Linked DNA regions of Homo sapiens. The protein of the gene in region 2 interacts with the protein of the main gene of each other region in a pairwise test. Each region holds a gene or a part of one and is shown on either strand. Other genes may lie near its edges.

What was found.
Region 1: the proteins of TRIM34 (region 2) and MNAT1 interact in a two-hybrid assay, tested with the Homo sapiens proteins (one large-scale study listed by BioGRID and IntAct).

The regions. Positions count from the first base shown.
Region 1 is NC_000014.9:60,797,045-60,800,866, reverse strand, and holds part of MNAT1 (CDK-activating kinase assembly factor MAT1), read right to left. Parts: intron 2,781-3,822; coding exon 2,707-2,780; intron 1,609-2,706; exon of another isoform or gene 1,476-1,608; intron 1,456-1,475; exon of another isoform or gene 826-1,455; intron 1-825.
Region 2 is NC_000011.10:5,623,572-5,627,853, reverse strand, and holds the start of TRIM34 (E3 ubiquitin-protein ligase TRIM34), read right to left. Parts: upstream 2,854-4,282; 5' UTR 2,794-2,853; intron 1-2,793.

The DNA.
Region 1 (3,822 bases), on a different chromosome or scaffold from region 2:
TGAAGTTCAGAAAATAAACTATAAATCCAAGAGGTTACTTCCCAAAAATCATCAATATCTTTAAATAGAGTAGAACCACTCTTTAATAAACACAATGAGGATTTATAGTTGAACATTTAAATAAGTTTGTTAAAGGAGAGAAACACACACATACACCTGTCTCTCTCTTCAAATACTTTAACTTAAAACATATATAGGAAGTATATAGTCATTCTCTAACTTAATGACATAGAGCAAATTCTAGATTTTAGAGTTTTGCTTCTTCCTTATATAGGCCATAACTGTCATCTATATTGTTCAGTTTCCTTTTCTGTTTTCTGGTTTTTTGAGACATGGGCATGCTCTGTTGCCTAGGTTGGAGTGCAGTGGCGCAACCATGGTTCACTGTAGCCTTGGACTCCTAGACTTCAGAGATCCACCTCAGCCTCCCAAGTAGCTGGGACTACAAACGTGTGCCACTACACCCAGCTACTTTTTAAAATTTTGGTATAGATCTCATTATGTTGTCCAGGCTGATCTCAAACTCCTGGGCTCAAGCAATCCTCTTGCCTTGGCCTCCCAAAGTGCTGTGATTACAGGCGCGAGTCACTGCACCTGGCCAATTTCCATTTTTTAAGAAGTGACTTAAAAACCTGAGAAACAGAATCCTTCTAGAGTTTTACAATTTTTTCCCCAACCTTACACACTTTAAATATTTAAATTACATATAATATTAAATATGTATTTAATTACATAACTACATAACTACAATAACAAGTACAACTGGCATAAGAAGGTTGATGGCATTCACAATGCATTCATTATGCTGTGGGTATCAGTGAGTACCTTTTATGGAAGAACTGGGGAATGACAGTTACTTCAATGAGACAATTAAGTGGAGGTTGCTTAAGAGAGTTTCCCGATACTGCAACTGAAGACAGTCCTTCATGAATACACATAATAGCAGAATCACTTTCAAATTAAATGGTCTGAGCCACAGCTTCTATATTTTGGTAAAGAAAGCATTACATGTTGTATACCCCCAATATCCAGACTTGCTCTTGCCTATCAATTCTAGTACCAATTATGGGCCCCATGTTGTCCACACCTTCAAATTACTTTATCTTGGAGCAACACACACACACACACATATATATGCAGTGTGTGTGTGTATATATATATATATATTTTTTTAATCATAGCTCAGTCAGAATCTTAATCCCAGAATCAAGATCTCCTTGTAGTTCATCCCCTAAACCTATTCCTCACCTTCTCTGTATATGTTTCTTTTAGTTATCCTGACTGCCTGCTTGTAATTGTGACCATGTATTCAACTTGTACTGCAACACCTATAATTTCCTTTCCCTTTATTGCTTGACCAGACTTTTGACTAATCACATTACCTTTAGAATATATGTAAGCTACTTTTCTTCCCAATTGCTATCCAACAGCTTGTCCTATACTTAGTATCTATATAGAGCCAGATTTCTACATACCTTCATACTTGCCCAGTTCTTGTAGATTTCTTTCTGGTTTTTCTTCTCAGTCTACATTCTAACTTTTCCACTTTGCCTTGTCACTCCCAATTCTACCATCTTTTCAGCTAAAATCCATAGTCACTCATGATTGCTAAGATAACATACAAAGTGCAATGAGTACATGCAGAATGGAAAAGCAGTGGCTCTTATGGCACTGAAAGATCCCAGAGAAACCCTAAATTATGTTTTCCACATGCTTTTGCTATGGCATAACAAATGAACTTAGACATATGAGAAAAGTTTCAGGTAACAGTTGAAACAAAAAGATTTTCTGGATTTTCTAGTAAAGAAATTAAAGGAATTAGAATATTTATTATTCCTCAGGAATCTGAATTGTTAAGTTTATCATATATAAATCTTCTAAAGAATGATCCATTTTATTATAATCTTATTTTTAATAGTAAATATTGAGTACAGTTACCTATTAAGTTTGAAAGAATAAAAATGATTGCTGTTTGATCCTCATAGTCTCATTCTAATGTTCACAGTATATAACCTTTGTGTCATTTCCAAACCCGCACTTAGTAATAATTACTGCAAGTTTAAAAAGCAGCATTATTTTTTAAATCAACATATAACAACTTCCAAAGTTTTTAACATCTCTGAAATTTTATTTAAGAAAACTGAAATCATTTTTTCTTGATAAAATCTTCCTTTTGACTAAACACATCAGAAAGAAAAGGCACAAAGATTACTCCAACCTCTGATTCCAGAATAATACTGATTAATAGAATGCCACTTCAACAGTCAACTGCTTCAAAGTACTTTAAGACTACTATATCCACAGAAGCACAAATAATGATAAACATATGGCTTTAGTCACTATAAATATGGTTAATAGGAACCCCATTTTTGAAAAATCAGAATATGTTTTCCATTCATTTAAACTACTCTAATATGTTATCAACACACAGATGCATGTACCCATATAGTCTTCCTCCCCAGCTATGAAGTGTTACTATCTCTATTAAACATATTTTTCCTAAAAGACAATATTAAATAGGTTCTTTACTTAAGTATGCCTTCAATTTGACAAACATGACTCAAGTGCAAAAGAAAGTAATTAGGTAAATGTTAGCTATCACAACAAAACCTGTTAAGAGGTTTTTATGTGAGATGTTCTCCTAAGCATTTAAAAGATAAAAGCACATGGTCTTATAGGCTAGCATACATCAAATTAAAAACGTACCAATTTCTTCCACTTCTTCCAAGAAATCATTGTATTCTCTTAGACTAGGAAAATCTTCTTCCCTTTTATTGTATCTTTAAGAAAAGAAAAAAGAAATCTACATATTACATATCATTGCTTTTAATATTATCTAACTGGTTTGCTTGTTCTGACCTAATTCATATATGATACATGGAAAAGAATTGCTTACTGTGTAAAACATCGTTCTCTATTTTTTTATTTTTATTTTTTGAGATGGAGTCTTGCTCTGTTGTCCAGGCTGGAGTGCAGTGGCACAATCTTGGCTCACTGCTACCTCCATCTCTCTGGTTCAAGCAATTCTGCTGCCTCAGCCCCCCGAATAGCTGGGATTATTACAGGCGCACACCACCATATCCACTTAATGTTTTTTGTATTTAGTAGAGATGGGACTTCACCATGTTGGCCAGGCTGGTCTCAAACTCTGATCTCAAGTGATCCACCACCTCGGCCTCCCAAAGTGCTGGGATTACAAGCATGAGCCACCGCGCCCAGCCTAAAACACTGTTTTTCTTGACACCAGGTTTGTAACCAGACCAAAAATGCAATTCTTAAATTCTTATGACTACGGAGAAGAAGTAGGATCAGGAGAAAATGGTACAATATGCAAAATCCTTGTTAAGACTTCAGGGAAAGATAAATTGGGAGCTTGAAAGATTGGGAAATGAGCTTAAGCAAGACATAACATTGGAAATTATGGTATTATTTACTTCTAAGGGATTCACTAATTTCCAAAACACAAAAAATTGAAGCGACTCCTCCATTTTTCATGACATAGTCTAAAAAATACTGGATCAAGAAAATCTGTATATATTGTAATGTACCTGTAAAGAATCAGTAAATTGCAAGGAATTACCAATGAAAGATCAAAATCTAAGAGACTACCTTGCAGAAGTTATACAAACAATAAAAGAGCCGCTAGGCGGATTGATAAAGTATTATTGGTTATGTACCTAGAAAGATGCTGCTAAAACACTGGTTACCTGGGTTGAAATGTATACCACCAAAAATAAAAATAAACATATCAATTATTTCTCATAATAACAGATAAAAGGAAACCCAAAACTATTAACAAAGAGTAAAGAGTAAAGCCTAAAT
Region 2 (4,282 bases):
GGGGAGGATGTCTTTTGAAGTTTCTAGACAATATCCTAGACACTTCTTCTGGATTCTTGGTCAGAAACTGCCAATAAGGAAAGTAGAGCCTGTTTTGACATCCAGAGACCCTGAGAGCTCAGAAACATTGTAGCATCTCCTCCCCATTCCTCTGTGCACTGAGTTCTTGCTTCAGCTACTCCTTAGAGTCCAGGGCCCAATCTATACCACATTAATGACTCTCTCCCCAAGAGCTGTAGTGTTCTGGTCAATATATCTCCAAAAAGCTATTTTTTAACATAGAATCATTTTCATTAAGCAATCCCTAATGTCTTTTTCTGTCTGTTACTTCGTGAGAATATGCTGAAAGAGTTTTTTTTCAAATTAGTTTCCAACCACCTCAACTGCCACCACTCTGGTAGAAACCACCTGAATTCAGGAAATTGTTCTTCCACTAGTCTTGCTGATACTATCATTGCCCTTCCTTTTTTTTTGAGACGGAGTTTTGCTCTTGTTACCCAGGTTGGAGTGTGGTGGCATGATCTCGGCTCACTGCAACCTCTGCTTGCTGGGTTCAAGCGCTTCTCTTGCCTCAGCCTCCCGAGTAGCTGGGATTACAGGTGCCTGCCACAACGCCCAGCTAATTTTTGTATTTTTAGTAGAGAGAGTTTCACCATGTTGGCCAGGCTGGTCTCAAACTCATGATCCACCTCAGGTGATCCACCCGCCTTGGCCTCCCACAGTGCTGGGATTACAGGTGTGAGCTACTGTGCCCACCCATCACTGTCCTTCTTCACTCTGCTCTCATCTCTGTTCTTACATCAGTAGACAGAGTGATCACCTTAAAGCAGATGTCAATCATGTCACTCTCCTGTTCAAACCCATGCCACCCAGAGCGAGGCCAGACTTCATAATGGTCCAGTTAGGTCCACATCACACATGCCTTCCCACTGCCTCAATCCTCAGAGCTCACCATATTTTTTTTTTTTTTTGAGACAGAGTCTTGCTCTTTTCCCCCAGGCTGGAGTACAATGGCGAGATCTTGGCTCACTGCAACCTCCACCTCCTGGGTTCAACTGATTCTCCTGCCTCAGCCTCCCGAGTAGCTGGGACTACAGGCATCCGCCACCACACCCGGCTAATTTTTGCATTTTTTTAGTAGAGACACAGTTTCACCACATTGGCCAGGCTGGTCTTGAACTCCTGATCTCTGGTGATCTTCCTGCCTTGTCCTCCCTAAGTGCTGGGATTACAAGCGTGAACCACCGCGCCTGGTAAGAACTCACCTTTTATGCCTCTCCAGGCACACTCCCATCTTAATCTTCCACACTGTTCTCCTTTTAAGCCCGTGGGAAAAACCATTAAAGCCTTTAATTTCCTCGCATTCTTAAGATTCTACTCAAATGTGTTCTTACAATGAAAACTATTTAAAACTTTCATAAAAACTATTTAAAGTTGCAAGGCCTTCATGAGGTCTTTACAGAGTCATTACCCTAATGTAACTTCTTGAAGATGTTACTCCATAGTATTAGTCATCTTCTTGTGTACTCTAACATTCATCGATATGGTCTATGATCACTTTCTATTTGGATGTAGGCTTCCACGTATATTTCATATTTATTGAATGTTAAATGGATGCTAATTGCACGTTTTTACATTAGCAGCCTGCTTTATAATCAATTTTATCCCATATGTTGGGTCTTGTGCCTGACTAGACGCCTCTGGGAGACAGTCAGTATGTAGGCAGACATGGATTCTACCCAGGAGTAAGGCAGAGACACAGGATGGCAGTTACAGTGAACTCTGAAGGGTGAGAGCAGAGGCCAGAATGGCATGTGTCAGAATATCTGTAACATATCAATCAAGGTGCAAATTGCTCACAAGTGAGCTTAAGATAGGACATACTCTATATCAAATTCTTAACAAGAAGATTAAATCCGTGGGCTCCTTCTGAGCCCACAATGAACAACTTCTGTTAAGTAATTGTGAGCAAAGAAAAGCAATAACAAATTGAGGTTACAAATCAATGCCAAGGTGTGTCTAAGAGGAAGAATGATGAGGAGCAAGTTCTGAGACAGGTGAAGACGCTGGTAGCACATGGGTTACTGAAGTAAAAGTAAACAGGTATGTTCAGGGATGTGCAAGGAGAGCCCTGAGACCTGCAGAAAGACATAGGAACAGAGGGAACAGAGCGGTGTGCGGCAGTCACATCACTCAACCTGCTATTGTCAGGGAGGCCAAGGACTAAGAATACGTGAGGATGGCCACAGAAAGCCCCTTAGTGGTTGCCAGGAGGGCAGCAAAAGAACCCACTTCAACCCCTGGCCGTGCTCCCATGGCTCCATTCTATCTGACGCCACATACTAGGAGCTAAGCCCTGCACACACTTGGAAAACAGAGACCTCCTTTCACCAACTTCTCTTTTGAGGAGGGAGTAGGAGGTGGAAAATAAGAGATCTTCTGTTCATCTCTTTGAGAGAGAGAAAGAGAGAGAGAGAATTGTTTCCTTTGCAAGGTAGAAAATCAAAATTATACAATAGGAAGGGAATGGAAATAGATTCAGCCTGGAGGAAAAAAAGACACCCCAGAAAACAAAGGCGGCCTTCTGCCTCTTTAACACTGCTTTCAAGGCTGTCCCTCCCCAGACTCTAGGCTGCTATCAGTGTGCACTCAAAGCAGGAAGCCTGCAAGCTAGCCTTTGCTCCCGACAGAGCAGGGGAGACTTGGGGCCATAAATCAAATTCCCCTAACTTCACTGAGAACTTTTCTCCTGGAGTCTCATACCCTCTACCCCCCACAAACCTCCCCACACACCTTCAGAGCAACAGAAATCTCGGCTCCTGGTTGAAGAGGTGAAGAAAAGCCAGGGTGGGTGTGGTCAGGATTCATTCAACAAATGAGGTTCCTCTGTGTGAAGAAGTCCCTCCCTCCTGAGGAGGAACTGCCTGAGAAATGAAAGTGAAATTTTTGGGGCTGTCAGGAAGAGAAAAGGGGAAGGAGCGTCTAGGTGAAATGAGCTGTGTAGTCCTTTAGAGCCTCTGGACAGAAGGTAATGCTCTTAATCCAGTGATTCTCGAGGGCAGAATGGAGGATTTGCACTAGATGGCACATTTGGCAATGTCTGAAGAGATATTTGGTTGTTAACTAGGGGAATGCTACTGGCATCTTAGTGGGTACAGGTCACAGATGCCGCTAAGCATTCTACAATGTATGGGACAGTTCCCACAGCAAAGAATGATCCATTCCAAAACATCAATAGTGCTGTGTTTGAAAAGCCCTGTTTTAACCTTCCCTGCCTCCCAGGCCAGCTAAACACCCAACTCCCCTTCTCCTACCACTTTCATGGTTGCACATGGTCCCTCGAATCAGTTTACCAATTTGAATTATCCTTCAGCTCCAACGATCCACTTGTGTGCTACCTACCAAAGTACCATGTCACCCGCTAGGAGATGGAGGATGGGTGGCGGAGAGGTGGATGGTGCTGAGAAAAGTTGGCTACAAAGGACCTGGGGAACTTTTGGGAGTGTTGGAAATGCTCTAAATCTTTAAAAGGGGTAAAACTTTTTCAAAACTCATCAAACTGTGCACAGTAAATGGGTGCATATTATTGCATATAACATATATATCAGTAACATTATTTAAAAATGAAAAGTCTTCCAGGTAATTTTTACGCGAATCTGAGGCTGAGAACCACTAGTTGTAAGTAGTAAATCAGGAGTTTTGTGCCCTGGACAGAAAGGGCTGCTTTGAAACTGAGGTAACCTTGAAATCAAACCGAACGAGGAGGAAACTTGAACAAGAGTTGCCACTCGTTTGGTCACAGGATGACCCCACATTGTGCCTCCACAAACAGCATGCTCCATTTTCATGAGGAATATAAGTTGATAGATTCATTTTCTGTGCTGTATGCATCAAAACAATCCTAGTCTACCTCCTGTAGAGCACATTACATAATAAAAGGTGCCACCTTTGGAAACCACCTGACAAGGTACAATTTTCATTTTTGCCCTCTCCATCTGACTCATGCATGGTGATCAAGGACAATTATAAACTTGTTGGAAGTTTAACAACTTTCCCACAAAAATGTATCCACATCCAATACCTTGGGAATATGCTTTGACTACTTTTAAGGGAGTCAATTACTATCAGGTTAGTGCAAAAGTAATTGCGGCTTTTGAAATTAAAAGTATTATAAAGCCAACTGTGGTGGCTCACACCTGTAATCCCAGAACTTTGGGAGGTTGAGGCGGGCGGATCACAAGGTCAGGAGTTCGAGACCACCCTGGCTAACATGGTGAAACCC